2 separate regions of the Homo sapiens genome follow, and region 2 is linked to region 1. The links come from fine-mapping of genetic effects on gene expression. A gene starts in region 1. The other region holds a variant in brackets. All regions are shown on one strand. Distances are between the middles of the regions.

What was found.
Region 2: its variant is fine-mapped to the expression of FAM3A in monocytes after LPS (Fairfax 2014, PIP 0.92).

What each region holds. Positions count from the first base shown.
Region 1 is chrX:154,508,895-154,524,545 of GRCh38, reverse strand. FAM3A (FAM3 metabolism regulating signaling molecule A) reads left to right here and starts at 8,314. Exons shown (of 9, transcript NM_021806.4): 1 at 8,314-8,786; 2 at 11,610-11,723; 3 at 12,675-12,698. The coding sequence starts at 8,774. LOC124905229 (a long non-coding RNA gene) reads right to left here and starts at 9,066. Exons shown (of 2, transcript XR_007068357.1): 1 at 8,831-9,066; 2 at 1,417-1,941. RefSeq lists silencers at 7,668-7,824, 8,040-8,449 and enhancers at 7,800-8,422, 8,423-9,046.
Region 2 is chrX:154,645,801-154,661,451 of GRCh38, reverse strand. It overlaps CTAG2 (cancer/testis antigen 2), which reads left to right and starts at 7,873. Exons shown (of 3, transcript NM_172377.5): 1 at 7,873-8,205; 2 at 8,821-8,955; 3 at 9,185-9,475. The coding sequence starts at 7,937. The coding sequence ends at 9,323. LOC105373387 (a long non-coding RNA gene) reads right to left here and starts at 7,717. Exons shown (of 2, transcript XR_938543.3): 1 at 6,448-7,717; 2 at 6,083-6,361. It also overlaps the pseudogene IKBKGP1 and the pseudogene OR3B1P. The variant C/T (reference allele first, on the strand shown) is at 8,195.

The DNA.
Region 1 (15,651 bases):
GGCTGCTCTTGAACTCCTGGGCTGAAGCAATCCTCCTGCCTCAGCCTCCCAAAGTGCAGAACTCCCCAGTCCTCCCATACACTTGAAATAATCTAATCATCTCTAGATAACTTATAGTATCTAATACAATATAAGTACTACGTAAATAGTTGTTTCACTGTCTTGCTGCTTTTTTTTTTTTTTTTTTTTTTTTTTTGAGACACAGTCCAACTCTGTAGCCCAGGTTGGAGTGCAGTGGCCACAATCTCGGCTCACTGCAACCTTCACCTCATTGGTTCAAGCGATTCTTGTGCCTCAGCCACCTGAAAAGCTGGAATTAACAGGCACGCACTACCACCTGGCTAATCTTTGTATTTTTAGTAGAGACAGAATTTTGCCATGTTGACCGAGCTGGTCTTGAACTCTTGACCTCAGGTGATCCGCCCTCATTGGCCTTTCAAAGTGCTGGGATTACAAGCATGAGCCACCACACCCACCCAGTGCTGTTATTTTTTAGTGGTGGTGGTGGTGGTTTTTTTTTTTTTTCCCAAACATTTTCTGCTTAAACAATATGATCCTGAATGACCAGTGAGTCAGTGAAGAGATTAAGAAGGAAATTGAACATTTTCTTCAAATAATTCTGGGTAGCGCTGTACACAGCAAATGTCTGGGGTCGTCTTTCTGAGTTCTTTTTTCAGATGTTCAGCCTCAGGGAGCTTTCTGGCAGGAAAATGAGACAAGATCTACCTTTTGGCCAGGCACGGTGGCTCACACCTGTAATCCCAGGACTTTGGGAGGATGAGGCAGGCGGATCACTTGAGGTCAGGAGTTCAAGACCAGCCTGGCCAACATGGTGAAACCCTGTCTCTACTAAAAATACAAAAATTAGCCAGGCTTGGTGGTGGGTGCCTGTAATCCCAGCTACTCGGGAGGCTGAGGCAGGAGAATCACTTGGACCCGGGAGGCGGAGGTTGCAGTGAGGCGAGGTCACACCATTGCACTCCAGCCTGGGCAACGGAGTGAAACGCCGTCTCAAAAAAAAAAAAAAAAATCTATCTTTCTCCAAAGCCAGCAATACAGTGATGTTCCAGCATCTCATGACCCAATGACCCATCACATGGGGTTTGACTGCTTCCCAGGGTGAATGCAGGCAGTCCTGAGGCTGACAGTACATTTATCCAGCTGACCAAGCAGCTCATTCCCATATACCATTGAAAAGCCAGCCGGGTGCCGTGGCTCACACCTATATATCTCAGCACTTTGGGAGGCTGAGGCAGGCAGATCACCTGAGGTCAGGAGTTCAAGATCAGCCTGGCCAACATAGTGAAACCTCGTCTCTACTAAAAATACAAAAATTAGCCAGGTGTGGTGGCGGGCGCCTGTAATTTCAGCTACTGGGGAGGCTGAGGCAGGAGAATTGCTTGAACCCGGGAGGCGGAGGTTGCCAGTGCTCATTTATTTTTACATAAACACACTCTTTGAGGCTGAAGTAAATCTGACTGATTTTCAATGTGAAAATAATATATAAAAACTGTACTTGGAGTTATTTCTAAACAGAACTAACATCAGAATCATCTATTTTGGAAAAATCTGATTCATCAGATGAATCTTCGGCTAACAACATTTTCTACGATTTGACATTTTCGGCAATTCAGAATTACTATTTTTTTGTCAATGGAAATACCACTACTAAGAAAGGAATGCTCTAAATAGAGTGATGTCTTTTGTTTCCAAAGTCGATATACTAGAGCGATGAAAAAATAATAAAAGGAAGATACTTCATGGCAAAGTTATCTCGGGGTAAACACTGCAGCCACAAGCACCACCAGCGTATTCTCAGGGCAAAGGTACCAGTAACCTGCTTGTTGGTTCAAAGGTCCAGCATCTTCGCTCTGAAGCCCAAGAATGACTTGAAGACAAGGAAGCCATGTTTCTGCTCAACTCCAGGCTGAAGTTACAGGTCTGAGGAAAGAACAAGGTGCATATAAATGGAACCCATGTCTTGGAGGACATCAGAAAGGGAACTGTCAAGTCCTTTCTTGTACAACCTAACTGTTCAAGTTAGCACACCATCATTTTAGTATTTTAGTCTTCCTAGTGGAGCTGCTTTTTTTTTTTTTTTGGTGAGATGAAGTCTCACCCTTATTGCCCAGGCTGCTGGAGTACAGTGGCATGATCTCGGCTCGCCACAACCTCCACCTCCTGGGTTCAAGCAATTATCCTGCCTCAGCCTCCCCAGTAGCTGAGATTACAGGCACCCGCCACCATGCCTGGCTAATTTTTGTATTTTTAGTAGAGACGGGGGTTTCACCATATTGGCCAGGCTGGTCTCTTGGCCAGGCTGGTCTCGAACTCCTGACCTCATGATCCGCCTGCCTTGGCCCCTTGGTGAAGGGGTGGCCTGCCCCTCCATATCTGTGGGTATTTCTAGTTGGGTGGGACGAGAGACTGAGAAAAGAACTAAGACACAGAGACAAAGTATAGAGAAACAATAGTGGGCCCAGGGGACCGGCGCTCAGCACACCAAGGACCTGCACTGGCCTCTGAGTTCCCTCAGTTTTTATTGATTATTATTTTCATTATTTCAGCAAAAAGGAATGCAGTAGGAGAGCAGGGTGATAATAAGGAGAAGGTCAGCAAAAAACGTGAGCAAAAGAATCTATGTCATAATTAAGTTCAAGGGAAGGTACTATGCCTGGATGTGCACGTAGGCCAGATTTATGTTTCTCTCCGCCCAAACATCTCAGTGGAGTAAAGAATAACAAGGCAGCATTGCTGCCAACATGTCTCGCCTCCCGCCATAGGGCGGTTCTTCTCCGATCTCAGAATTGAACAAATGTACAATCAGGTTTTATACCGAGACATTCAGTTCCCAGGGGCAGGCAGGAGACAGTGGCCTTCCTCTATCTCAACTGCAAGAGGCTTTCCTCTTTTACTAATCCACCTCAGCACAGACCCTTTACGGGTGTTGGGCTGGGGGACGGTCAGGTCTTTCTCATCCCACGAGGCCATATTTCAGACTATCACATGGGGAGAAACCTTGGACAATACCCGGCTTTCCAGGGCAGAGGTCCCTGCGGCTTTCCGCAGTGCATTGTGCCCCTGGTTTATTGAGACTAGAGAATGGCGATGACTTTTACCAAGCATACTGCCTGTAAGCATTTTGTTAACAAGGCACGTCCTGCACAGCCCTAGGTCCCTTTTAAACCTTGATTTTATACAACACATGTTTTTGTGAGCTCCAGATTGGATCAAAGTGGTTGGGTCAAAGTGGCTGGGGCAAAGCTACAAATTAACAACATCTCAGCAAAGCAATTGTTTAAAGTACAGGTCTTTTTCAAAATGGAGTCTCTTATGTCTTCCCTTTCTACGTAGACACAGTGACAGTCTGATCTCTCTTTTCCCTACACTTGGCCTCCCAAAGTGCTGGGATTACAGGCGTGAGCCACCGCACCCAGCCTTATTTATTTATTTATTTATTTTATTTATTTATTTAGAGACAGAGTCTCGCTCTGTCACCCAGGCTGCAGTGCAGTGGCACAATCTCGGCTCACTGCAACCTCCACCTCCCAGGTTAAAGCGATTCTCCTGCCTCAGCCTCCCGAGTATCTGGTATTACAGGCGTGTACCACCATGCCCAGCTAATTTTTGTATTTTTAGTAGAGACGAGGTTTCACCATGTTGGCCAGGCTGGTCCTGAACTCCTGACCTCAGGTGATTCACCTGCCTCAGCCTCCCAAAGTGCTGAGATTACAGGCGTGAGCCACCGTGCCTGGCCCCTATTTTATTTTTTTGAGACAGGGCCTTGCTCTGCTGCCCAGGCTGGAGTGCAGTGGTGTGATCATAGCTCACTGCAGCCTTGACCTCCTGGGCTCAAGTGATCCTCCCACCTCAGCCTCCCAAGTATCTGGGACCACAGGTGTGCACCACCACATGCTGCTAATTTTTGTATTTTTGGTAGAGATAAGGTCTTCCTGTGTTGTCCAGGCTGGTCTCGAACTCCTGGGCTCAAGTGATACTCCCGCCTGGGCCTTCCAAATTACTGGGATTACAGGTGTGAGCCACTGAGCCCAGCCTGGGTGATGTTTTAGCTGTACCTTAAACAACTTTAGCAGATGTGGATTAAGACACTAGGAGCCAATGAGACTTGGCAATTAATGGCTGGGCGTGGTGACTCACGCCTGTAATCCCAGCACTTTAGGAGGCCGAGGCAGGTGGATCATTTGAGGCCAGGAGTTCAAGACCAGCCTGGCCAACATGGTGAAACCCCGTCTCTACTAAAAATACAGAAATTAGCCGGCCAGTAGTGGCACATGCCTGTAATCCCAGCTGCTGAGGAGGCTGAGGCAGGAGAATCGCTTGAGCCTGGGAGGCAGAGGTTGCAGTGAGCTGTGACTGCGCCACTGCACTCCAGCCTGGGCAACACAATGAGACCCTCTCTCCAAAAAGAAAGAAAAAAATCGTGAAAAATGAGGCAATGCAGTTATGTGTTGGCTGTGTCAGGTCAGGTTTCTGCATTTTATCACCCCCTTCCTGCACAGGAATCTTCAACATGGTTTCTGTGGAGTCTAGCTGCCCTTTATTTATTTGTGTAAATATATATATATATATATATATATATATATATATATATGCAGGGTCTCACTTTGTTGCCCAGGCTGGTCTCAAGTTCCTGGCTTCAAGCAATCCTCCCACCTCAGCCTCCCAAAGTCCTAGGATTACAGGCGTGATTCACTATGCCCACCTCAGCCTCCCAAAGTCCTAGGATTACAGGCGTGATTCACTATGCCCACCTCAGCCTCCCAAAGTCCTAGGATTACAGGCGTGATTCACTATGCCCACCTTAGCTGCCCTTTCTTGGACGATCAGGCCCAGAGCTGAACCTCAGAGGCACCGCGCATCAATCCCCAGTTGAGTAGCCTGTAGCTGCCCCGCTTGTTGCCAGTTGTTGAGCATGAACTCCCTGCGACTGCTGATAAGTCCCCTTTATCTGCGCTCCTCTCTATACACAGCCACCTTTTGTTCCCATAACAAGCCTTCAGGTCTCCACATTTGCACATCTCAAATTCTGTGTTCCACGTAGGTGGCTCATTCAGGGCCCTTCTCAAGCCACTTTCTAAAAGTGTCAACCAGTCACTGTTAACTGATGCTTCTGTATTGGTGGAAATGAAATATCTATTGATTTCCGTGCATGGTGGCACATGCCTGTAATCCTAGCACTTTGGGAGGCCGAGGCAGGCGGATCACCTGAGGTCAGGAGTTCGAGACCAGCCTAGCCAACTAGTGAAACCCCATCTCTACTAAAAATACAAAAAAATTAGCCGGGTATGGTGACAGACGCCTGTAGTTCCAGCTTCTCGGGAGGCTGATGCAGGAGAATCACTTGAACCCGGGAAGCAGGAGTTGCAGTGAGCCGAGATCACGCAACTGCACTCCAGCCTGGGCAACAGAGTGAGATTCTGACTCAAAAAAAAAAAAAAAAAGAAAAGAAAAGAGAAAAAGAAATATCTATTGATAGAATTTTTAAAAGAACTCTATATTTCTATGGACATATATATGAGCCCATAAAAGTAATACATGGCCGGGCACAGTAGCTCACGCCTGTAATCCCAGCACTTTGGGAGGCCAAGGCCGGCAGAACACGAGCTCAGGAGTTTGAAACGAGCCTGGCCAGCATGTTGAAACCCCGTCTCTACTAAAAATATAAAAATTAGCTGGGTATGATGGCAGGCACCTGTAATCCCAGCTACTTAGGAGACTGAGGCAGGAGAATTGCTTGAACCTGGTAGGCAGAGGTTGCAATGAGCCAAGATTGAGCCACTGCACTCCAGCCTGGAGACAGAGCAAGACTCTGTCTCGGGGGAAAAAAAAAAAAAAGTAATATACACACACACAAAAAGATAGTAGTGATGGTTGTACAACATTGTGAATGTAACTGATGCCACAGGATCGTATACTTAAAATGATTTGGATGGCAAATGTTATGTTATATATGTCTTACCCCAATACAAAAGTACATCTATAAATATATAGTATTATTTTGGGTGTGCTCCTCTCTGTATAGAGGTTATCCCGTGGTGTGTGTCTGTAACTTGATTTTTTCCAATTCTGCCCTCAGTTTCCTGCTCTTTCCGGGCCTCAGGAGGCTTGACATCCCTTTGACCACAGCACTGAAAGGTGTTCTCTTTGCTGAGAACTCAGTGTCTTCTGCCTGGCAGAGGCTTCGGCCCTCTATTTTTGTTTCTATCCCTTATGCATTCTCCCCGGCAGGTGCCCCTCCCAGCTTTAAGTGTATGTATACTCTGGATTTTTCCGTCTTCAGAACAGTGCTCAAAAATACCTGGGGTGTCCTTCTAACAGAAAGTGCAGAGACGTCTGCTGCAGGATTGCCCACCCCCATTTTGTAACATCTGCTATTTGAGAACTGCTGAAGCTGCCCTGATCTATGAGGGCTGACCTGGAAGAACAGATGACTGTGAGTGTACCCCAGGACGTTGGCCTGGATGGTGACAGACCATGTGCTCTAGTCACCGTGCTGGCCAGACCCCCACAGGAATCCAAACCATCCCAGAGAAAATAAGGGACTTTTGCAAGGCTGCCCCAGGAAGCACGGAAGACGTGGAACTGAATCCCAGGCCTCTGGCCCATCACCCACGTGGTGTCCCCAAGGAAGGGAGAGTTGTCTCGGAATGCTCAGGGGGACTCATTAAAGCAACACTTTCATAAATGCCTGCTCTGAACAACATGTAAATATTGTCTTTGAAAAACACCGGCTGGCAGCTCAAGGGTGTGAGTAACCTGGAGCTTCTTCGACTGGGCCCCCCTGAGGAGGGCATGGAGCCCAAGATTCGTTACCATAATTACTTGAGAGGCTGTCAAATTCCATGACAAAACGCAAATGCAAAGCCCTGGCCCCAGCAGCAGGCAGCTGAAAGGGACCTTGACCCTGTTGAGTACTCCAGTATAGAAGCTGCTGGATTCTAACCAGGGCTCTCCCATGCCCGGCTCTATAAACTTTCTCTATATTTTGCATTGTTTCCCTAAGGGTAGGAGATTCCCGTAAGTTGGGTCAAAGGGCAGGGAGGTTTCCGTGGTTCTCATTGGGCCCTGCTGCTGCTCTCCAGACAGATGATGGATCAGCTGTCAGGGTGGCCCCGGCCATGCCAGCGCAGTAGGTGGTCAGGGCGCACTTGGGGCAGCCGGCAGGGCAGAAGGGACGGGAGCTTGACCCGTGTTCTCATGGGCAGAGGGAGCCCGGGCAGTGTTGGGGGCAGCGTGCGGGCAGGCGCGGAGGGGAGATAGCCAGGCAGTCAGGGAGAATTGGGGTGACTGGAGAAAGGCCGAAGGGCCGCGTCTGCCTGCGGCCGGAGACCACCCCAGGTCCATACAGCCAGCTGGGTGCCGGGCACCATTTGGAGCCGCTGGGAAAGCCAAGCACCGCTCTTTCTGGAGCCTTCTTTTTTCCTATTGTTAGGGAATTCACGACGTCACACTTGTTTTCAAGTGAAAATAAGAGTTGTGTAGGACGCGAAAGTCACGTGACTTGAAAGCTGAACCTGAGAGGCCTCAAAATAAATTCTGGTTTGCTGTGAAAGCCTCGGGTTATAGCGCTAAACTCCCCCCTCCACTGCCCCCGAAAGTTGTATTCTCCTCTGCTTTTAGGGTGGGGTGTGGCGTAAACAACACAGCTTGAGCAGCTCTGAGGAGGAGGGTGTTAGAGACCAGGCAGGCGGAGCAGGCAAGAGTTTTCAAGGATGTCGAAATAGTTTGAGACGCCCCGTCCCATTATAAAAGTGATAACGAGAGACAGCAGGAACGCGCTTCTGGACAGAAAACAGACCCTAAGGAAAGGCAGCCAGAGGCTCACGCTGGATCCTGCGGTCTTCCCTATCTGCGCCTCTGTACCTCCCTTGCCTTTACAAAGCGCATGGATCAACTTTGGAACAGGTTCTAATTCTGCCCCAGATCCATCTGCGTCTTCCCACGACTCACAAATCTGACCTCAGGGTGCAAGCGCAGCCCCAGCCCTCTAAGCCTGGGTAGGCAGGGCTCTCCCACCCGAGAAAGGGCCGAGGGGAGACTTCCGGGGCGGGACCGACGTGGGCCCCTCCCACTCGGCGGCCGGTGGGTTCAGCCTGAACGCACTGCGGAGGTGGGGCCGACGAGGGATCCAGGGGCGGGACAGGTTCGGGGCGGGACAGGTTCAGGCCCCTCCCATGCGGCGGCCAGCGCGAGCGGTAGAGGCGGGTCTGGAGGCGGGGCCTGCGTGGAGCCAGACGGCGCAGCTGCTGCCGGGGGCGGGGCCGGCGGGCTGTGGCCCCGCCCTTAGCCGCCATTGCCGGGCCTGCCTGGCCACCCTGCGCAGCGGCCTTGCGTCCTCTCCCGGGGCGGAGCGGGTCGGCGGGCCTGACAGGGAACCTCCCTGACCGAGCCCACGTCTCCCCACGGCCAGAGAAATCTCCGGCCCGGCCCGCATCGCCAGCCCCCAGGCCCGGAGGAACGGCCCGAGCCCAGGAGAACCACATCTTCGTCCCAGCCCCGGAGGCTCCTGTGGGCAAGATCGTGAGCCAACGGGTTCCTGAGGCCCCTCCTGGCCAGGCAGGGTTTCCCCGCGCGTTTCCGAGGAGCCCTGCCTGGCCGGGCGGCTGGACAAACAGGTCGTAGCACCGATCGCGCCCGCCCCCAGCAGGGGTCCCGCACAGGCTTGCCCCTGACCCCCACCCAAACCTGTCCTTCCGCTTTGCCCCCAAACAGTGCACTTGCCGGCGGTCCCAACCCAGCAGGAGAAGTGGACATGAGGTTGGCAGGTGGGTGGCTTCCACAGCGAACGGGAGGGAGTTGAAAAGGGCACCTGGCTGGAGGCCCAGCGTCGCGACATCTGTGTCTGGAGAGGCCCGGGTGAACCACTGGGTTTGGTTTTGGAAATGGAGGACTCTGCACAAACACTCGTTCCTTGACCTTAACCAAATCCTTTCACCTCTGAGGACGTCAGCTCCCCGAGCTATGACATGAGGATTAGTATAGTCAGTATCTCCCAACGCAGGTAGCAGACCAGCTGCTTTTTGGAAAATGAGTGGTGAGAGAGAGGAGGTGGGCAGTCCAGGTGGAGAGGCGTGGTCTTAGAGGGGAAGTGACAAAAGTGGCTGTGGGCTTCGACATGAACCCGATGACAGCCCTACTGTCACCTGGACAAGTAAGATGAAGATCCTTGGGGAGGGATAGGTTGGGGCTGGGTGGAGAGTAGAAACAACTCGGGAATTGGACTTCAGACTTGCTAAGGTGGTAACTTTGTGGACATATCCAGGTGGAGCTGGCCACTGAGGAACCAGCTGGCAGGGAGTGGTTTCAAGAGAGGCCACGGCTGGAACTAGAAAATAGAAAGTCATTGACACATGGTGCTTAATTAAAGAGCTAGGAGTAGATGACATCATCTAAAAACACACTACAGGCCGGGCGCGGTGGCTCACGCCTGTAATCCTAGCACTTTGGGAGGCCGAGGTGGGAGGATCACTTGAAGTCAGGAGTTCGAGACCAGCCTGGCCAACATGGTGAATCCTCATCTCTACTAAAAAAATACAAAAAAATGAGCCTGGCGTGGTGGCGGGTGCCTGTAATCCCAGCTACCCGGGAGGCTGAGGTTGCAGTGAGCCGAGATTGCGCCACCGCATAACTCCAGCCTGGGCGACAGAGCGAGACTCCGTCTCAAAAAAGTAAAGACAGCTGGGCGCAGTGGCTCACGCCTGTAATCTCAACACTTTGGGAGGCCAAGGCGGGTGGATCACCTGAGGTCAAGAGTTCGAGACCAGTCTGGCCAAGATGGTGAAACCCCGTCTCTACTAAAAATACAAAAATTAGCCAGGCATGGCCGGGTGCGGTGGCTCACACCTGTAATCCCAGCACTTTGGGAGGCCGAGGCGGGCGGATCACGAGGTCTGGAGATCAAGACCATCCTGGCTAACATGGTGAAACCCCGTCTTTACTAAAAATACAAAAAAATTAGCCGGGCGTGGTGGCGGGCGCCTGTAGTCCCAGCTACCAGGGAGGCTGAGGCAGGAGAATGGCGTGTAACCGGGAGGCGGAGCTTGCAGTGAGCCAAGATCACGCCACTGCACTTCAGTCTGGGCAACAGAGCAAGACTCTGTCTCAAAAAAAAAAATTAGCCAGGCACGGTGGTGCGCGCCTGTAATCCCAGCTACTTGGGAGGCTGAGGCAGGAGAATCGCTTGAACCCAGGAGGCGGAGGTTGCAGTGAGCCGACATCGCGCCATTGCACTCCAGCCTGGGGGGCAAGAGCAAGACTCCGTCTCAAAAATAAAAAAAATAAAAAGACACTACAGGTAGGGACCAGAAGGCAGCCTGAGATGGGAGCCTGGGAAAGTCCAGCTTTTAAGGGGAGGGTAGAGGAGACGATCTAACTAAGGAGAATGAGGAGTGTCCAGAGAGATTGGGTCAGGAGAGTGTGCTGTCCGGAAAGCCAGCAGAGAAGTTAGTGCTTCTGTCAGGTGGACATGGGCAGCCCACTGAGAGGTCAAGGAAGATCAAGGCTGACAGGTCACCAGGGGTGGTGACACCACAAAGGTCATCAGTGGCCTTGGCAACAAGCTGATTTGGTGAGGTGGTGGAAGCCAGGCCAGACTGGAGTAGGGTGGGAGGGAGTAGGAGGTGAGATGATGGAATGAGTATAGATGACTTTTGAGGGGGTTGACAGGGAAAAGAAAGGTTAGGGGAAAGAGGATGGGGATGTGGTTTTGAAGAAGAGTGTTTTCTTTGCTTCCTTAACATTGGAGATGTTGAAAATACAGGAGAAAGAGCGAACTAGAGAGAGTGATCACTATTACAAGAAATCAGAGAAGGCTGGGGAGCTTGCAATCCAGGTCCCAGCAGATGACGGGACTGTTGTTGTTTTGGTTTTGTTTTGTTTTGTTTTTGTTTTTGTTTTGAGGCAGAGTCTCACTCTGTCGCCAGGCTGGAGTGCAGTGGCATGGTCTCAGCTAACTGCAACCTCCGCCACCCAGGTTCAACTGATTCTCCTGCTTCAGCCTCCTGAGTAGCTGGGATTACAGGTGCGCGCCACCATGCCCGGCTAATTTTTGTATTTTCTGTAGAGGCAGGGTTTCACCATCTTTGTCAGGCTGGTCTCGAACACCTGACCTCATGATCTACCCGCCTCGGCCTCCTAAAGTTCTGGGATTACAGGCGTGAGCCACTGCGCCCGGCCGGGACTGGTCTTAAAAGGGAGTAGGGACCCTTCTCCCTCAGAACAGGAGGAAAGCAGGGGCAGGTGGATGCCCAAATATATTGGTGGTTTCAGAGGCAGGAAGTTGAGGGGGTTCTTGGAAAGAGGGCTGGAGCCCTTCTCGAGCAGAGAGTTCTGGAAGGCCCCCTCCCAGACCCGCCAGGGAAAACCAAACCCAGCAGCCTTGGGATTTGAACTCAATTTCCTCCTTCCACCTGCCAGGGAGCTCAAGTCTCCCTTTCAGCCCTGGTAGAAGGCAACAGGTCTCCACCTCCTTGTCCTCCAGCCACTTCTTCCCAAGTGGCAGGGGAGATCCAGTCATGCAAGGCTATGGGGTCATTCTGGGGTTCGCTGGTATCTGAGGTGACCCCACCCTGTGTCTATCCTGCCTCCAGGCCCTCTCCGCATTGTGGTCCTAGTCGTCAGTGTGGGTGTCACATGGATCGTGGTCAGCATCCTCCTGGGTGGGCCTGGCAGTGGCTTTCCTCGCATCCAGCAACTCTTCACCAGTGAGTGTGGGACCCCGCCTTATCCTTCTCTGGAGGCCACCAAGGTGGCCACCTGGGCCTGTGGTTGAGGCTCTGGGTTGGGAGTTGACTTGGGTTTTCTATCTCCTCCCTGGCAGGCTACCTTTGGCTGTCCCCAGTCTGTCTCCTGGCATCAGGCGCAGCCTCCCCCAACACCCAGTTGCTTCATCTAGGAAAGCCAATACCTGATCACTAGAATTATATGCCCAACTGGAGTCAGTAGGGCCAGAGTAAGGGGTAGGGAGCTTCCACTGAACATGGGGAGTGATGCCCCGGTTGCTCCCTGCAGGCTCTGAGATGGAGAGGGGACTCTCCACCTTGTTGACTGGTAATAGGTCACCTGAGTACTTTTTTGTTTGTTTGTTTGAGACAGTGTCTCACTTTGTCTCCCAGGCTGGAGTGCAGTGGTGCAATCTCGGTTCACTGCAACCTCTACCTCCTGGGTTCAAGCGATTCTAGTGCCCCAGCCTCCCGAGTAGCTGAGACTACAGGTGCGCACCACCAAACCCGGCTTCTTCTTCTTCTTCTTCTTCTTCTTATTATTATTATTATTATTATTATTATTATTATTATTATTGTATTTTTAGTAGAGATGGGGTTTCACCATGTTGCCCAGGCTGGTCTCAAACTCCTGGGCTCAAGCAATCTACCCGCCTCAGCCTCCCAAAGTGCTACAGGCATGAGCCACTATGCCCGGCCAGGTCATCTAAGTAGTTTTTCTAATTCCATTTCCCCCTGTTCCTAGAGTAGGGAGTTTTTCATCTGAACATGACTTACACTTGAGCAGGAAGCATGCCAAGGTCGGCCTGGCTTAGCCCCCGGCCCCTGAGCCTGACTGCCTGTGTCTACACTTCGCGGTGTAAGGAGGGCCAGGCTGCCCTGCCGCAGGCCCCGGGAGGCTCCACACTAACAGAAACCACTCTGTATCCACAGGTCCAGAGAGCTCGGTGACTGCAGGTAAGGCCCCTGTCACCTCCCTGCTCCTCCCCTTTGTGACATCCCTGCCTGCCCCCGGTCCCGTAGGGCTTCGGTTTTCCATTTATTCCTCCCCAAACCAGCTGTGGTGGTCCACGGGGGCTGCTTGCCACTGTCAACCTACAAAACAAGTTACTTCCTGCCAAGTTACTTCCTGCCAGAATATGACGGTGGGGCAGGCCTAGGATAGATACTCCCACTGCAAAAGGGCAACTTGGAAGGAAAAAAGAGGTCACCCGTCCCAAGCAAGTCCAAAGCCCAGCAGGGCAAAATTCATTTGGTTTCAAGGCCTGAGGGGAATCCTCTGTGGCCTGAGATTCTTTCTTCTGGGCCTGCTGGAATGACCCATGCTCTGAAACGAGACAGCCCCACCTTCGGGGCCACCCTTCCTTCCCTTTATCTCATCTCTGCCCCCTTCACTCCAGGCCGGCAGTGTTTCTGCTGGTGTCAGATTCTCAAGAGCCTTGTTGGTCTCTTTTGCAAGTTATAGAGGCCCAAGCTATAAAATCAGAGAGTTTTCCCACAGACGCTTCCTAGATAACCCCATCTTCATTGTAGATTTCTGCTGAAAGGGTTGAGTGGACCCACGAGTCACATACCTCAGCTCTGGGGCAAACGCTTGAACAGCCTTGCTGTTCTGTCCAGGGGACACTTTTGCAGTTTTTGTAATATGATTAGGCCAAGAATTTTCCACATCTTCGCTTTCTGGCTCCTTTGTGCTCAACAGTTTCTTCCTTATGTCTCTCACATTTTACTATAAGCAGCAAGGAGAAGTCAGGCTACGCTCTCAACACTGCTTGGAAATCTCCTCAGCTGAATATCCAAGTTCAGCACCCAGCACTTACACATTCTCCTTTCGACAAAACACTAGAACACAATTCAACCAAGTTTTTTTTTTTTTTTGAGACGGAGTCTTGCTCTGTCACCCAGGCTGGAGTGCAGTGGAGCCATCTTGGCTCACTGCAACCTCCGCCTCCCGGGTTCAAGCGATTCTCCCACCTCAGCCTCCTGATTAGCTGGGATTACAGGCACCTGCCACCATACCCAACTAATTTTCATATTTAGTAGAGATGGGGTTTCACCGTGTTGGTCAGGCTGGTCTCGAATTCCTGACCTCAAGTGATCCTCCCGCCTTGGCCCCGCAAAGTGCTGGGATTATAGGCGTGAGCCACCACACCTGGGCCAAGTTCCTTTATAACAAGGATCAGCTTTCCTCCAGCGCCCAATAACTCAATAACATGTCCCTCATTTTCCTCTGAGGCTTAACCAAAAGCACCTTTTTTTTTTTTTTTTTTTTTTGGTAGAGACAGAGGTCTTACTCTGTTGCTCAGGCTGGAGTTCAGTGGTATCATCCCCGTGCACTGTAAGCTCAAACTCCTGGGCTCAAGCGATCCTCTCACCTCAGTCTCCCAAGTAGCTGCGACTACAGGCATGTGCCACCACACCCAGCTAATGTTTTATTTTTTATTATTTATTTTTTGAATGTATTGAGACAGGGTCTTGCTCTCTCACCCAGGCTGGAGGGCAGTGGCGCAATCATAGCTCAAGTGATTCTCCTGCCTCAGCCTCCTGAGTAGCTGGGATTACAGGCATGTACCACCACACCCAGCTTATTTTGTATTTTTTGTAGAGACGGGGTCTCACTATGTTGCCCAGGCTGGTCTTGATCACCTGGCCTCAAGTGATGCTCCTGCCTTGGCCTCCCAAGGTGCTGGGATCACATGCGTGAATCACCACACCCAACCCAAAAGCACCTTTAACATTCATGTTTCTAGCAACGTTCTGTTCTTGATGATATTTGTATTCTCTAAGACCACAGAGGCTGTCTCTATTGCTCTCCCCTCCTCTCACCAGAATTACCTTTAACATCCATACTCCTACCAACAGTCTCTTAAAGGCAATCCAGACCTTTTCTAACATGTACCTCAAACTTCTATAGCCTTGATATGGTTTAAATGTCATCTCTAAAACTCATGTTGAAATTTGTCAATGTATTGGTATTGAGAGGAGGGCCTTTTTGAGGTAGTTACGTCATGAGGGCTCTGCCCTCATGAATGGATGAATGCCACTATTATGGGTGAGTTAGTTACCTTGAAGTTCAGCCCCCTTTTTTCCTGCGTCTCATATGCTTGCTTCCACCTTCCACCTTTCTGCCACGGGATGACCCTCACCAGATGCCGGCGCCATGCTTTTGGACTTCCCAGCCTCCAGAACCATGAGCCAAATGAATCTGTTGTCTTTATAAATTACCCAGTCTGTGGTATTCTGTTATGGCAGCAGCAAATGGACTAAGACAAGCCTCTACTGACTACCCAGTTCCAAAGCCATTTCCACATTTTTAGGTATTTGTTACCTAAGCACCACACTTCCTGGTGCCAAAACCTGTATCCATTTCCTGGAACTGCCATTTCAACTGGGTGGCTTAAACAACAGAAATGGATTCTCTCCCCATTCTGAAAGCCAGAAGTCTGAAATCAAAGTGTCAGCAGGGCGTTACTCACCCTGAAAGTTCTACAGGAGGGTCCTTCCTGACCTCCCCAGGTTCCAGTGGCCCCAGGCATACCTTGGCCTCTGGCTGTGTCACTCCTGTCTCTTCCTCCACTGTACCATGGCTGTCTTCCCTCTGTGTGTCTTTGTCACTTCTGTTCTTATAAGGACATCAGTCATGTTGCATTAAGGACCCAACCTACTCCAGTATGACCCCATCTGAACTGCAAAGGCCCTATTTGCAAACATCACATTCTGAAGTACCACAGATTAGAACTTCAGCATACCTTGAGGGGACAGAATTCAACCCATAATAGAAGCCATCCTGCTCCAGTCCTCCCAACCAACCCCCATCAAAATCGGGAGACAGGCTGCACCCCCTGCCACACTACCCCCTGCCACACTGCCTTTGCTCAGGTTGGCCTCATCCATGCAGCTAGACCCCCAG
Region 2 (15,651 bases), 140 kb before region 1:
CCCACACTACTATAAATATACTACCCAAGGCTGCGTAATTCATAAACAAAAGAGGTTTGATTGACTCACAGTTCTGTGTGGCTGGGGAAGCCACAAGAAACTTACAATAATGGCGGAAGGCAAAGGAGAAGCAGGCACCTCTTTGTAAGGCAGCAGGAGAGAGAAGAGAGAGTGAAGGAGGAACTTCCAAATTCTTATAAAACCATCACGTCTCGTGAGAATTCACTCACTATGAGGAGAACAGCATGGGAGAAACTTCCCCAATGATCCATTCACCTCTCACTCAGTCCCTCCCTTAACACATGGGGATTATGGGGATTACAATTTGAATCGAGATTTGGTTGGGGACAGAGAGCCAAACCTTATTAATATCTAAATTTAAAAATATGCTTCTGAACAATCAATGGATCAATTAAGAAATTAAAAGGGAAATTTAAACATTCCCTGGGAGTAAGGAAATTGGAAAAAAATATCAAAACCTATGGAATACAGGAAAACCAGTTCTAACAGGGAAGTTTATAGCAATAAATGCGTACACCAAAAAGAAGAAATATCTCAAATAAATGACCTAATGTTGCATTTCAAGAAACTAGAATCACAAGAACAAAGTAAGCACAACATTAGTAGAAGGAAAGAAATTACAAAGATATAGCCTTATGTGATATGTAGAACACGAACTCTAGCTATGAAGCACCTACCCAGTGTGGTAACAGTAGTCACTCTGTTGGTTGTCGGGGGAGTGTGCATGTGTAAACTTTCACTCCATCTCAGTCATTTCTGCAGTGTTGAATTACTTTCCACGGGGTCAGATTATCTGGGGAATGAAAGCAAAGACTTAAGTTGGCTACAACTGAAGGGAAGCCAGCCTGGTCTGACCCCTCGACTCATGCTCCGGCCTAGGTGCAGAGGGCCCTGTGGTTTTGGCTCCGGTTCTCTGGCTGCAGGTTCCTCCTGAACAGGCCTAAGAAGAGAAGAATGCTGCCTGCAGAGGGCAAAGTGTCGGAGAACAGGACGTAGATACGGTGTCAGCCCCAGGGGTAGGCTCTCTGTGGGGACCTTGCTCGGTGAGATGCTCCCTCAAGCCACAAGCCACTCCAGACACCAGGCACCCTCTTCCTCCCCCAACACCTTCCTCACAGACAAGACAGGTTGGTGTCTTTTGTCCTGATGTCTTTGAGCTGACAGACCTAGTTTTGGACACATAGATAGGTAGGTATGCACGAGCTGGTGGCCGCAGGCTTCCACACAGCTTGGGCTGACTCTGCAAACAGGGAGACTGGAGACACAGCTACGGGAAGGATGACACAACATGGTCTTCACCACACCGAGGCTGATCTGGGTACTTCTGCCGTGTACCCAACGTAAAGCAACGCTTATTAGGTTGTCACCTCAAGGGGAGCAGCCAGCTGCCTGGTGGAAAGTGGATTATATTGGACCCATTCTCTCATTCAGGGAGCAGGAGGATTTTTGTCCCAGGAATAGAGACATTTTCTGTATATGTATCTGCCCTCCCACCTGCCACAGTTTTGCCAGCAAAGCCATCTATGGATACCCTAAAGGCTGATCCCCATCACTTTCTCCCAAAAAAGGTTCTGTTCAACAGGAGATGAAAGATTTGCCTGGCCATTTGAGGCTCCTCATTGTATTGAACCAACAAGTCTTCCTCCATTAAATCTGAAACCTGCCTACCTAGTCATTAGTCCATCCCTCATCCCCTCCCCCCCTTGTAAGTTGGGACTCCACACCTAGACCCTCATCTGACTCTGAGTTGCATACTACAGGTGCAGGGTTCTGTGCGTGGTTCCAAGCAGCTGCGGAATGGGACCCTAGTGTCCCAGTTTCTTCTGAAAGGCCTGAGGGACAGCAAGGCTTGGAGGCCCCTGCTGTTCACCACCTTTCTGCTAATCTACATAGTGGTTGTGGTTGGGAGCCACATGTTCACAGTGGACTACCGACGCCACACTCCCATGTACTTCTTCTTGGGCGGCCACTCGCTGATGGATGCCGCCTGTATCTCCAACATGGTGACTCAGGTGCTGGTGCATTTGCTGGCTCAGGTAGGGCCCGTACTTTATTGTGCTTGTCTCATCCAGATATGCTTTCTCCACTTCCTGGCACCCTAGGAGTCCTTCCTCCTCACAGCCGTGGCCTATGATTCTATGCAGCTATCTGCCAGCCATTGCACTACTTTGTCCTCGTGGGCCGACTGACCCACACGGGCCTCACTTCCATCTCCTGCCTGCTGGCCTTGGCCAACGCATTCACCTACAGCATCCTCACAGCTCTACCCAAGTTCTGCAGGCCTTGCCTCATCACCCACTTCTTCTGCGACCTCCGTCACTGCTCAGACTCTCTTGCTTCAGCACACGTACCAATGAACTTGCCCTGTTCTTCAGTTTTCTGGTGGCTCTTGCACACTGCGTCCTGGTCGTGGTCTCCTATGGACACGTTGTGGCTGCTGTTCAGGATTCATTCCACCCAGGGCTGAAGAAAAGCCTTTTCTACCTGTGTTGCCCATCTCACTATGATCGGTCTTTTCTACGTCACTTCAGTCCCCTGCTACATCCTTCCCAACTCTGCATACTCTGGCTTGGGCGACTGGGTGCTCTCTGTGCTATGTGTGGTCCTCACTCACATGCTAAACCCCATCTTCCCCAGCATGCTGGGATGACAGGCATGAGCCACCGCACCGGCCAGGAAATATTTCTTGAAAGAAAGAATGAGAGAGTACCTCGTGTCTCCCCATTATGGGGTTTGGCACTGGGGATACAGAAAAGCTCCAGACAAGCTTCCTGCCTTTATGGAGCTCACAAAGTAGGCTGGGCTATTAGGCACTAAGACAATTCACTGTCATACAATGGTTACTCGCCATTCCTTCACAGGAAAGGGTCACTCACCCCTACCACCAAACCTAGGAACGGCCACATGCTGCTCAAAGGGTCAACACAGCTGCCTTTCACTGTTCTCAAGTGATGGCGGGTGGGCGCTCAGAGAAGACCAAAGGCTCAAGGCCAGGACACTAGGCCATCCGGGGCTTCCCAACAGACCCCCATCCCGAGTCCCGCACAAGAGCCTGCAATGACCCCCACAGGGCGAAACAAGCCGTGCTCATCAGCCCTGGTAGGTATGGCTGGGCCCTCCCCCTGGGCCATATGAGGCCAGCCTACATCATCCCCACTTAGACCGCCCCACTCAGGCCAAATTCCTAGGAAAGGGGCCGGGAATCTGTGTAGACCGGGGGAGATTGTTCTCATCATATAGGTGAGAGATGATGCCGACCTGGCCTAGGGAGGGTGGAGAGGACACATTGAAGGAAACTGACTGGACGGAAGGTGAGATGACAGAGTGCGGGACCATGGAAACGCGTGTCGCCAAGACAGAGAATGAAGCAGAGGGAAGCCATTCCGGGAGTCGGGGGACAGGCAGTGAGGTCAGCTGGGGGCAGGTTGGGTTGGAAGTACCTACAGGCCATCCAAGCTCACATGACTGTGCTGGTTTGAAACTCTGGAATTCAAGCAAAGAGATCCCTGCTTAACTTTAATTCAATGGCCCTCTTTGAATATAGACATCCTGGCCCTGTCACCTCTGAAGCTTCACCATTCCAGATGATGCCTAATGTGATTTCAAATACATTTCATCCATTCCAAGCAAGTCTTCTCTGATTCGGAAACACAAAGACTGTCTGCCAGCGTGTGTGGACCAGGACCGGCCCTCTGGAGGGGAGGGGCTGTTATGGGCCTCGGTAGGTTTTGTGTTTAAGCACACATGTGTTCTTCATGAGTACCTCCAAGGTGCAGAAGAAAAAAAAAATCTCAGTGTGTAATAGTGACAAAATGCTGATGAAGCAAACTATCAACAGCCCTCTGGAGGAATAACTTTCAAGGTAGGATGAACTGTGTGTGTGGAATTTGGAAACAATTGTTTTTTGGAAGCGGCTGAAAGCCACAGAGATGACCAGGAGAGCCGGGCGACATCTGCCCCGTGGTGTCTAGCGTGGGCCCCGAGGCTCGGTGACTTCAGAGACTTCATCACGGCACCGTCCGCCTCATTACATCAAGAAAAGGTGCCAATTAGAACAAGTTTCAGAGGAAAAATATGGCCTCCAATGAATTGAACAGGCTAATTTAAACTTTGGCAAACTGGCTCACTCCAGAGCTAATTAGAAATTTTCCTCAACAGCAAGTAATGAATAACTTTCTTAATCGCTTTCTGCTTATAAATGTAATACATGTTCACTGCAAAAGAAGAGGAAATATGGGCAAGTTCGGAAGAGAAAATAAAAAACCAACCGTTATCTCACCGCCAAGGATAACGACAATGAAAATGTGGTGTATTTCTGGATAAATGAGCCAATTCTTGTCTAGTGCTTACAACAGTGGCTTGGGACATGGTGACCACCCAACAAATGTTATTGGTTATTATTATTCTCATTGCTAGTAGGCTTAGAAAAGTCTTTTCCAATGCTATCCCTCCCCCAGCCCCCCACCCCCAACAGGCCCCGGTGTGTGATGTTCCCCTCCCTGTGTCCACATTGTTCAACTCCCACTTACGAGTGAGAACATGCGGTGTTTGGTTTTCTGTTCCTGTGTTAATTTGCTGAAAATGATGGTTTCCAGCTTCATCCATGTCTCTGCAAACGACATGAACTCATTCTCTTTCATGGCTGCATATATTTCATGGTGTATATGTGCCACAGTTTTAAAATCCAGTCTAACATTGATGGGCATTTGGGTTGGTTCCAAGTCTTTGCTATTGTGAAGAGTGCTGCAATAAACATACATGTGCATGTGTCTTTATAGTAGAATGATTTACAATCCTTTGGGTATATACCCAGTAATGGGATTGCTAGGTCAACAAGTTGATGGGTGCAGCAAACCAGCATGGCACATGTATACCTATGTAACAAACCTGCACGTTGTGCACATGTACCCCAGCACTTAAGGTATAATAATGAAAAAAAGGAAAGAAAAGAAAGAAAGAAAGAAAAGGAGAGAAAGAAAGAAAGAAAGAGAGAAAAGTCTTTTCCATTCCAACAATCAAATAAAGTTCATCTAAATTTTCTTCCAATGTTTTTACTTTTATTGTGTATATATTAGGTCAATACATTCTAAACACTTCAGATACTATAGAAATATTTCTCTATATAGCATTCCCCCGTGCTTCTACTGAGATATGTATCGGCAGCCTGAGAAGTCGGCATTCCTTTGTCCACACCCATCCCCGTGCATCCGTTTCATTTCATTCGCTCCACAGTCAGCCGCACCTCAGAGTTGTCCTTCAAAGGGTGAGAGACTAAGACTTTTATCCAGTGACTCTTGGCCCCATCGGTGGGGGGCTGTGTCCAAGGGTACAACTTCCCCAGAGCTTCCAGGCCCACCCTGTGCAGGGCGCAGGAGAAAAAGCAGATGTGTTGTGAGCTGCAGGAGAGGCGCTGGCACAGGGCACAGAGGTCCCCACCCCAGCAGCCGAGAGGCAGAAGGCACGTGCAGGGGGCCCAGAGGCTCAGCAGGATCTGAGATGTGAGAAGATGTCTACGAACACAGAGGCGCAGGAGGAGGCCGGAGATGACGGTCACTGGAGGGGCTCTGAGACGTGCACAGAAAACAGGACAGAGCTTGGCAGCAGCACTCATTTGTCGCCCTGCCACACACAGCCTGTGTTTTCTCCTTGACAGCATCTCAGTAGGACCCAATAATGCCAACGCCTGGAGATCCCTCTGGACAACCGTCTTCATCCTCCACATCTGGTCCTCCCCTACACCTGGGGCCTGGACCTGCTAAGGAGCTCTTTCCAGTTTTCTAGACACCTGTGGAATCCCTTCACCCACCCTTACCCATCGGTGTGGCTGCTCTCCAGCTCACTCTCGTCCTGCTCTCCCCAACTGCCTCGGCTCCAGGGGGACGAGGCTTTCCCTGGGCTGCTGCCTTCCCTGCCCCCTTCCCAGTCCCCAGAAGGGTGCCAGCCTCAGAGGCCTCCAGAGCAGAGCCTTGCTCACCGCAGCAGCTCCAGCTGGAGGAGGTTCCCCCTGCCTCCTGCACCCTGACCCCTTCTTAGAGCAGCAGAGGCAGAAGCAGGAGCCTGCTTTGGAAAATGACATGTTTTTATTGCTATGTCTGCAGTGGCTTTTTAGCACAGTAGAATGTCCCCGCAGGCCCGCCACCCTCACCCAGCCCCAGCCCTGCAGCCTCTGTCTGGGTGTCGGGGAAGCCTTTCTTGGGGTCACTCAGCCGTCTGAGGACTGGATGTGGCACAGACATACATAGGTTAAAGCTGCTACACGGAAGACTGGAGATGCGGGAAGTGCATTCGCTTTAAGCCTAGAGGTGGTAGCCGTGTCCGGGGTCCCTTCCTGGGGGTGTGCCTGTTACCGAAATACCAAGGGTTTGGTCTACGTCCTGCTGCTGGCCGCACAGAAAGCCAATGACTGACTGAGACGAAGAGCATTACCAGGGAAGACGGCTTTAATTGGGTGCTGCAGCCGGGGAGATGGGAGTTAAGTCTCAAATCCATCCCCCTGACTAAAACTAGGGGTTTATATAGCCAGGAAGAAATGCACCAATGTGTAGGAAAACAGGAACTCGGGAGGGCCCAGAAAGCAATCCTGATGAATTTGGGGGGTCCAGCATCTCATTGTCTGGATGTGGTTATCTGGTGAGTTTCAGTTCTTTGATATTTTGAGAGGCCCGAAGGTCATTTCCTGAGGAAGGAATTCAGATAAAACAACTGTAAGGTTCAAGCTTGAAGACCAGAAGGGTCAGTTTCTATGTGTATCAAAAAGAACAGCCTATGGGACGATTGGATCGGTTTCATGCCCAACCCAGGGTACAGGATGTGGGAAGCCTGAGCCGGCCTGGTGAGCAGCCCAGACACCCGGGATGGAGTATTGCAGCCTCTCGCCCCACAGACTTGTGAACAGGGCGTGGGGACAGACACCCAGCTCCTAGGGCCATGCCACCCCCACCCCTGCCCGCCTCTCGCAGCACCTTTCCTGTGGATCTGACCCCCTTCCAGACACAGAAGTAAGCCAGCACCCAGCAGACACAGGGTCACCTCCCAGCTCCCTACCAGGCAAGAGCGACCAGGGCAGGGACTGATACTGCCGAACCCAGGAGCCAGGCCCGACCCAGCCTCAGGTCCAGCAGGTCCCGCCTGTCCACCTGGGCCAGGCCTAGAGCCCGGGAGCCCCTGGCTGGTGGGAGGCCACCCGCAACCCACCCCACACGCAGCTCCAGCTCCCCCACCAGGCGGGGCGACTAGGACAGGGACAGAACCCGTTGAACCCAGGAGTGAGATCCGGCCCCGGGTCCCGCTGGGCCCTCCCGTCCACCTTGGCTGGACCTGGCGCCTGGGAGACCTTGGCTGGCGCGAGGCCACGCCCACCAGACATGCAGTTCCAGCTACCCCACCAGCTGGGCGACCAGGACAGGGACGGAGGCTGCTGAGCCCAGTTAGAGGCCTGCCCCCCGGGGTCTGTCCTGGGCGCTCCCCCAAGGACGGACAGGGCAGACAGGGTCCGGGACGATGGCCGCACAGTCCCGGCCCCGTGTTCCCAGGCCCGTCTTGCTCCTCGATGTGAGGGAGACCCGGGGGATGGGACAGGCTGGGCCCCGCAGTGCCTGACTCCCTGCAGGGCTCCCGGGACAGGGGTCCGGCGGACAGCCGGCTGCTCAGGGGTGAGGGGTCCAAGCTGGCATTGCGGCCACCTTCCGGCCCGGGCTCTCTTGGGGAGGGGCGGGGTTGGTGAGAACCGGTCACGTGCTCCGGGGCTCACTCGGGGTCTCCCAGGGCCGGAAGTAGGGCCCCTGTGCGCAGGCGCCCTGAGGATCCCGGGCTGCCCATCTCACGCCAGGGGGCGGAACTTCCTGCAGCCTCTCTGCCTCCGCATCCTCGTGGGCCCTGACCTTCTCTCTGAGAGCCGGGCAGAGGCTCCGGAGCCATGCAGGCCGAAGGCCGGGGCACAGGGGGTTCGACGGGCGATGCTGATGGCCCAGGAGGCCCTGGCATTCCTGATGGCCCAGGGGGCAATGCTGGCGGCCCAGGAGAGGCGGGTGCCACGGGCGGCAGAGGTCCCCGGGGCGCAGGGGCAGCAAGGGCCTCGGGGCCGAGAGGAGGCGCCCCGCGGGGTCCGCATGGCGGTGCCGCTTCTGCGCAGGATGGAAGGTGCCCCTGCGGGGCCAGGAGGCCGGACAGCCGC[C/T]TGCTTGAGTTGTATCCTGTTCTGTTCTGTTCTAGGAGGTTCTGGTGGCGAGGTGGGGGCCGTGAGACGGAGACAACAGGGTCAAGAGGTGGGGGGCAGGGCCAGGAGGTGGGTGAGGGCAGGGCCAGGTGCGGAAGGTGGGGTTTGGGAGATGGGGGTAAGGCGCCGGGTGGGGTGGGGGTGGGGGCTGGGAGTTGGAGGTCGAGGGGTGGCTCAGAGGAAGGGAGTAGGTAGGGGATGGGAGGTGGAGCGTGTGCACAGTTGGGTGCTGGGCGATGGGGTGAGGGGCAGGGGGACAGGAGACAGGGGTTCTTGGGTGTGTGAAGGGATCAGGAGTTGGGGGGAAGCGTGCAAGGTGGGAGCCGGTGGCTGGGGTGTGGGCTGGATGGGGGTGGTGTCAAGCGATGGGGAGAGGTCCCGGCTGATGCGGCAGGGGGCATGGTGGGGAGGGCCTTGGAAGGGCACGCAGGAGTCAGCTTGAGGTGCAACAGAGGAAAGTGGGGAATCAAGACAGCTGGGTGGGGTTGCTGCAGGACCTGGGCCAGTGCGTGGGGAGACAGCCTGAGGGGATGAGATGGGCACCGGCCAAATCCTAGGAGATGGCACCTTAACTGGGTCCCCACCAGGCACATCACGATGCCTTTCTCGTCGCCCATGGAAGCGGAGCTGGTCCGCAGGATCCTGTCCCGGGATGCCGCACCGCTCCCCCGACCAGGGGCGGTTCTGAAGGACTTCACCGTGTCCGGCAACCTACTGTTTATGTCAGTTCGGGACCAGGACAGGGAAGGCGCTGGGCGGATGAGGGTGGTGGGTTGGGGGCTGGGATCCGCCTCCCCGGAGGGGCAGAAAGCTAGAGATCTCAGAACACCCAAACACAAGGTCTCAGAACAGAGACCTGGTACACCAGGCCCGCCGCCACCCGAGGGAGCCCAGGGAGATGGGTGCAGAGGTGTCGCCTTTAATGTGATGTTCTCTGCCCCTCACATTTAGCCGACTGACTGCTGCAGACCACCGCCAACTGCAGCTCTCCATCAGCTCCTGTCTCCAGCAGCTTTCCCTGTTGATGTGGATCACGCAGTGCTTTCTGCCCGTGTTTTTGGCTCAGGCTCCCTCAGGGCAGAGGCGCTAAGCCCAGCCTGGCGCCCCTTCCTAGGTCATGCCTCCTCCCCTAGGGAATGGTCCCAGCACGAGTGGCCAGTTCATTGTGGGGGCCTGATTGTTTGTCGCTGGAGGAGGACGGCTTACATGTTTGTTTCTGTAGAAAATAAAGCTGAGCTACGATTCCGTGTCTGAGTCTCTTTTCGGCGAGCGAAGGCACCTTCGGACTTGCATGCCCTTGTCCTCGGGTTGTAGGGGAGGCTCTGGGATTCACAGATTGAAGTAGCACAAGGTAACGGGAGGCAATTTGGGAAATGGGGGAAAATGAAAAGCCACTGGGTCCCGCCATTCAGCATTAACTACTGTGGACATTTTAGAATATTTTCCTCAATATACTTGCATTTATATGTTAAATATATGACAGTAGCATATATAATGTTTTTCCAGGTCAGCATTAAATTTTTTCCCAAATTGTTTTCATTGAACATATGAGCTTTTGTGCTTTCTAAAAATGCTTCAAAAACATGTACTTGAATAGATGCATAAAACCAGCATTATTTCACTGTTAAACATGTGATATGGGCCGGGCATGGTGGCCCACACCTGTATTCCCATTGTTCTGGGAGGCTCAGGTGGGAGGATGGCTTGAGACCTGCAGTTGGAGGCCACCCTGGGCAATGTAGTGAGATTCTATCTCTATAAGAATCATTTAAAAATTAGGGGTGGAGGGAGTGGTGGCAGGAACCTGTAGTCCCAGGTACTCAGGAGGCTGACGTGGGAAAGTGGCTTGAGTCCAGGATCTCGAGGCTGCAGTGAGCTATGAATGCATCCCTGAGCTCCAGCCTTGGCGACAGAGCGAGACCCTGACTCTAAAGTAATAATAATAGTAAATGTGAACAGCGTAAAATGTTTGTAAACACGTAATGTTAACACAGATTCTCTTACTGCTTGCAGAGTCTAATGAACAAGAGCAAGGTTTCCTGTAAAGAAACTGACTTTCTGCCATGCTTGGTTTAGGGGAAGACGTACAGGCTCCTGCCTTTAAGAGCACTGCTTCCCATTGGGGGCAGAAAGCAGGGCCTTTTAAAGGAGGACTTGGCGTGAATGGTAGGCAGGGGAGGGAGCAGGCAGCTGTGGGGTCTGCATGACATGCTGAGGTGTCTTGTCTGCCGGGAGGTCACGCTGGCACCATCTTGGGCAGAGCTAGGTTGGAAAGGGGCTGTTTGTCAAAGCAAAACAGACATATGCTTGAGCTGTGTTCTGGGATGCTCTTAAGTTGCTCGGAGACAACTTGATCCCTTTGAGTTTTGTTTTAGCATTTGCTCGGTGGGAACATAGCAGATTTTAATGTAAGATTAATAATATTAGTTGACAATCTCCAATGCTTGGCAAGGCTGTAGTTGGAAACGAGGACTCATACACTGTCAGTAGGAGTGGTAGTAACATCTATCTGGACATTTATTTGGCATTTTCTATTAAGGGAAAGATGTACATTCCCTTCCACCCACCTTGAGGAATCCATCTGAGAAACTCCTGGATATGCAAATGAGGTAGAATCCACCAGCATCTTAATGACACCACCACGTAAATAGTTTTTAGAATGTAAATGTCCACCAGCTGCGGAAAGGCTGAACAAATCACTGCACAACTGAGGAAGGCGAGGGGGGTTGGTACATCCAGGCTGTGCCAAAGCCGGTTCTGTCTCAGAGCAGAGGAGTTTTTCCAAGAGACGTGGGCACGCTGTGAGGAAGTCCCAGCAGGAAGCCAGGCGAATGCCACCTCCGCATGCCTGCCCCGGAGGGTGTGAGCGGCTTCCTTCTCCTCTGGATCGGTGGTGTGTTAGGAGAGGCCCGGCTCTCTGTCAAGGCCAGGGACGGATGGAAGCTGAGAGAGGACGCTGAGACCTGGGGAGCTTCCTGGAATGCAGGGACGCAGTGAACTCGCTCTGTTTCAGCCCGAGGTGCGCAAAGGAAAACTGAAAGACCAGCAGCAATGTCAGAGAGACCTTCCTGTCATGCCAGCGGGATTCCTTGGGAGCCAGTGAGCGCTCCAGCCCTTGAGGGCTCTGTCACAGCTGGTGGGAGCATGGGTCAGGGCTGTGGCAGAACACACCCCAGCCTCAGGTGAAGAGGTCCCTAATGCTTCCCTCTAGCCCTCATATTCCAGAATTCCAAGTCAAGTCTGAAGAGTCCACTTAACTTCCGTCCTCTCAAACATGCAGAGTGGTCGTCACACGCGGTTAGAGGAGTTTGACTCCTGGTGAAACGGGGAGGCCCGGGCAAACCTGGCCACGAGTCCAGCATGTGCCCGCCCCAGCAAGGTCACCGTGCCCCAGGGGAAGCAGCACCGGGAGAGGTCACCATGCCCCAGGGCCGCGACCCTGGCCGGGCTGACTCAGAAGTCCAGCTGCATTGCAGCTGTAACTGCATCCAGACAACTTTGACCAGGTGCTGAGCCACTGGCCCCTGCAGCCAACATCACGGGCACAAAAGCAGAAGCCCAGGGAGCAAAGATGAAGATCCAGGAGCACAGTAACTGTCAGGTAGGGACCTGCTGGCCCACTGAGTCTGGGAGCAACACCACAGGCGCTGCAGGGAGACCCCCGGAGTGACCCGGGGCCTGTCTCCAGAGGGCGGCCCTTCCTTAATTGGAGCTGCCTCTTCCCCTCCTGCCCTAGGATGTAAACCCTGCTTGGCTGAGGTATTGAATTCACGGGGAATCTGACCCCGCTCTGCCCATGATGCTCATCTGTCCTCTGGGGCCTCATTCCCTGAGCTTCCCAGAGCGGCCTCCTTTGTTTGGCTCAGCTCTGTGTCTTCCTTCCTGAAGCTGTGTCTCCAGTGTGTTAGGCTTCCCCTCTCTTCCCTCAAGTGGCCTCAAGGGCCCAGGAGGAAACGCAAGAGGGCAGGAGGGCTCCCTGAGGTGGAGAGCAGACAGAGAGCAGGTTCTCCTTCTGCCCTGTCTTGAAAGATGCCCCCAATTTACACCCACACGGGCGCCGGAATGGCCAGGTTGGTGAGGAGGGGGAATGGGCGAGGCTCCCATGCAGACACCCAGAGAGGTGAGTCCCTGAGATGGAGAGAAAGGAGTATCCGCGAGCGCACTGCCCTGTGGGAGAGGGAGAATCTCGCTGTTTGCAGAGTCAGCCGTGTGGAAGGCTGCGGCCATCTGTTTTTGCGTGTGTACCTACCGAGGCAAGAAGATCGCTTGGGGTCGAGAGTTTGAGACCAGCCTGGGCCACAGAGCAAGACCCTGTCTCTACAAAAATAAAAAAAATTTTTTTGTTTTTGAGACGGAGTCTCACTCTGTCGCCCAGGCTGGAGTGCAGTGGCACTATCTCAGCTCACTGCAGGCTCTGCCCCCCGGGGTTCATGCCATTCTCCTGCCTCAGCCTCCCGAGTAGCTGGGACTATAGGTGCCCGCCACCACGCCCGGCTAATTTTTTATATTTTTAGTAGAGACGGGGTTTCACCATGTTAGCCAGGATGGTCTCAATCTCCTGACCTCATGATCCGCCCACCTCGGCCTCCCAAAGTGTTGGGATTACAGGCGTGAGCCACCCCACCCAGCCAAAAATAAAAAATTTTTTAAAGTGACATTTGAGACGTACTTTTAAGTGAAGCTGATGTGTTTGGTGTTATTTTCTTGCAGAAAGTGAGGGGCATTAGTGTAAAGGATTTTGGAAGTGTTTAAAGAAACAAAAGGGAGTGTTGAGACGCCATCCACCCCTGAGAGAAGCTGCGTGGTATTATGGCGGGTGGGGGCACCAGGATGGGTGGTCCCACTTCTGGCCTCTGACTTCCTGAGCCTCAGGCCCATGTGGGCCCAGGCAGGGCCCGGCAGGCCGGGCTGCCCAGCTCCCCTCCACTGTCCCCTCTGCCACCAGATGCCATCCGGCAGAGCAACCAGATTCTGCGGGAGCGCTGCGAGGAGCTTCTGCATTTCCAAGCCAGCCAGAGGGAGGAGAAGGAGTTCCTCATGTGCAAGTTCCAGGAGGCCAGGAAACTGGTGGAGAGACTCGGCCTGGAGAAGCTCGATCTGAAGAGGCAGAAGGAGCAGGCTCTGCGGGAGGTGGAGCACCTGAAGAGATGCCAGCAGGTAGTCGGGGCAGGGCCAGGTTCTGAAAACCCGCGGTGACGCCAGTGTTCCACAAGGGAACCCGTGGTCGGGGTCCCCCAAAGCACCCTGGGGCTCAGTGCTGTGCCGGGAGGGCTCGGAACTCAGAAAAGCCGTCACACTCCCAGTTCCGGTTTATTACAAGGAAAGGACACAGGTTACGGTGAGCGAAGGCTCAGGGCGCACAGGGCGGGCTCCAGGAGAGACCAGGCGTGAGCTTCAGCGGCTCCTCGCCCAGGGGAGTTGTGCAGACGGCACCTGTTTCTTTCGGCAACAGTGTGGGACAGCGAGCACGGAGTCACAACCGGGAAGCTCACCCCAGCCGTGGCGGCCGGGGTTTTCACGGGGGGTGGGCCGCGTGGGCACCGAGCGCCTGCGTGGCCAACCCTGGTCACTCGGCTGTAGCCACCAGAGGTCCAGCTGTGTGGCCCAAGGCTCCCCCCATAAATCGTGTCATTAGCACAGACCGCCTGGTTTCAGGGTCTTTGTGTGTGGGCTTGGCTGATCGCAGGATCCTGGCGATGGTAGTCAGGAAGGGGCCGTGCTCCCTTTGAGGGGCAAGGTGGAGAGAAGTGCTGGAGAGGAGACTTGCTGGCGGGTACCTGGCACTTGCCACAGCCAGGCTCCACTCCCCTGGGGAAAGGCGTGGATGGTGGGCTGTGCACGCCGCTCCACTCAGGGCTTAGAGCGCCTGGCTTAAGGCGTTGATTTCCTGTGTGGGAAGTGGATGAGTTTTCTACAGCTGCCGTGACCAAGCACCACAGACTGCGGGGCCGAAGCCACAGAAACGCGTGGCCTCCCGCTTCTGGAGGCCTGGAGGCTGAGCTAGCGGTGGTGTCGGCAGGGTGGGCTCCCCGCCAGGGCCGCGAGGGAGCTGCCTTCCAGGCCTCTCCACGGCGCCGGGGGCCGCCGGCTGCACCTCTCCAGCCTCCATCTCCGTCATCCTGTGGCCTTGTCCCCGCGGGCCTCTGTGCCTGTCCTCCTCTTTTGACAAGAACACCGGAGATACACAAAGGTACACAAAAGCGGGCCTTTGTTCAAGCTGGCAAAAGAGATCTTCTTCAGAAACCCCTGCTTGCGGGGGAGAGAGCTGAGCTCCGTTCCCGCCCCAGCAGAGGCGGCCTGGCCTTGCGAAGGGAGAAGGAGGGAGTCGGGAGGGGGCGAGTGCAGGCTCAGGTGAAAGATGACGGGGCAGCCAGCGTCCTTGCCGCGAGGCCAGCCGTGTGTGGGAGCTGCCGGTGCTTACCAAGGTTGGGATGCTTCCGTCCCGTGGAGACTGGGAGACTGGGCCCCGCGCCTCCTGAGGTTTCCGTTTCCAAGGAGTGGCTGCGGGGCCCTCGGGAAAGCCCCTGGGTTGTGGGTGCTACACAGATGTCTCAAAGGGACAGGGTAAGCCCTTTGTAGTAAATGCTGTCAGAAAGGGAGGTCAGGTGTTGGCCGGAACAGACAGTACATGCTCTGGGCAGCCCTGAGCGTTTCCAGACGGGAACTCACTCAAAAGGGGGCTGGGGCGTCCCAGGGGCGCGGCCTTAGGCTCCCAGAGGCCCCGCGAGGTGGTGGCCGGGTGTCTTCGGGCAGGGGTTTGAGTGCAGTGTGCCTGCCGAGAGGTTCTGCAGTTCCCAGTGTTTAACAAAATTCAGTGTCCACTCTTGATCTGCACAAACTCTCCCATCCTGGCGGCCCCGGGTGTGGACTGGGGCCTGTGTTTACTTTGCCCTATTCGTGTCTGGCCTCCTTTTGTCCCAAGTCTCAGAGAGACGGAGAGAGATCCCCTGCTGGGGCTGTAGCTGCAAGGCCACCGGGTTCAGCCCTCGAGGCCTGCTTGCCGGGGCAGTGACTAAGCCGTTGACAACCTCAAGGCAGCTTTGTGCTCCTTCGTCTCTTTGGGGATCTCTTTTTGCCCCATCTGTGTGTCACCCTGTGGCAGAGGGTTAAGGTGGGCAGCTGGGGAGGGTTGGGTGGCCCTTGGGCTCATGAGGCCCTAGGGCACCCAGGTTTGGGGGTGCCGAGGGCAGGAAAAAAGGCCTCATGGCGCGCAGGCCTCAGCCGCTTGCGGGTTGCCCCGGGCTTGCGGATGGCAGGAGTGGGCCGCTGGGGAGAAAGCAGTGCTGACAGGAAGTGGCTTTTTATCCTGCAGCAGATGGCTGAGGACAAGGCCTCTGTGAAAGCCCAGGTGACGTCCTTGCTCGGGGAGCTGCAGGAGAGCCAGAGTCGCTTGGAGGCTGCCACTAAGGAATGCCAGG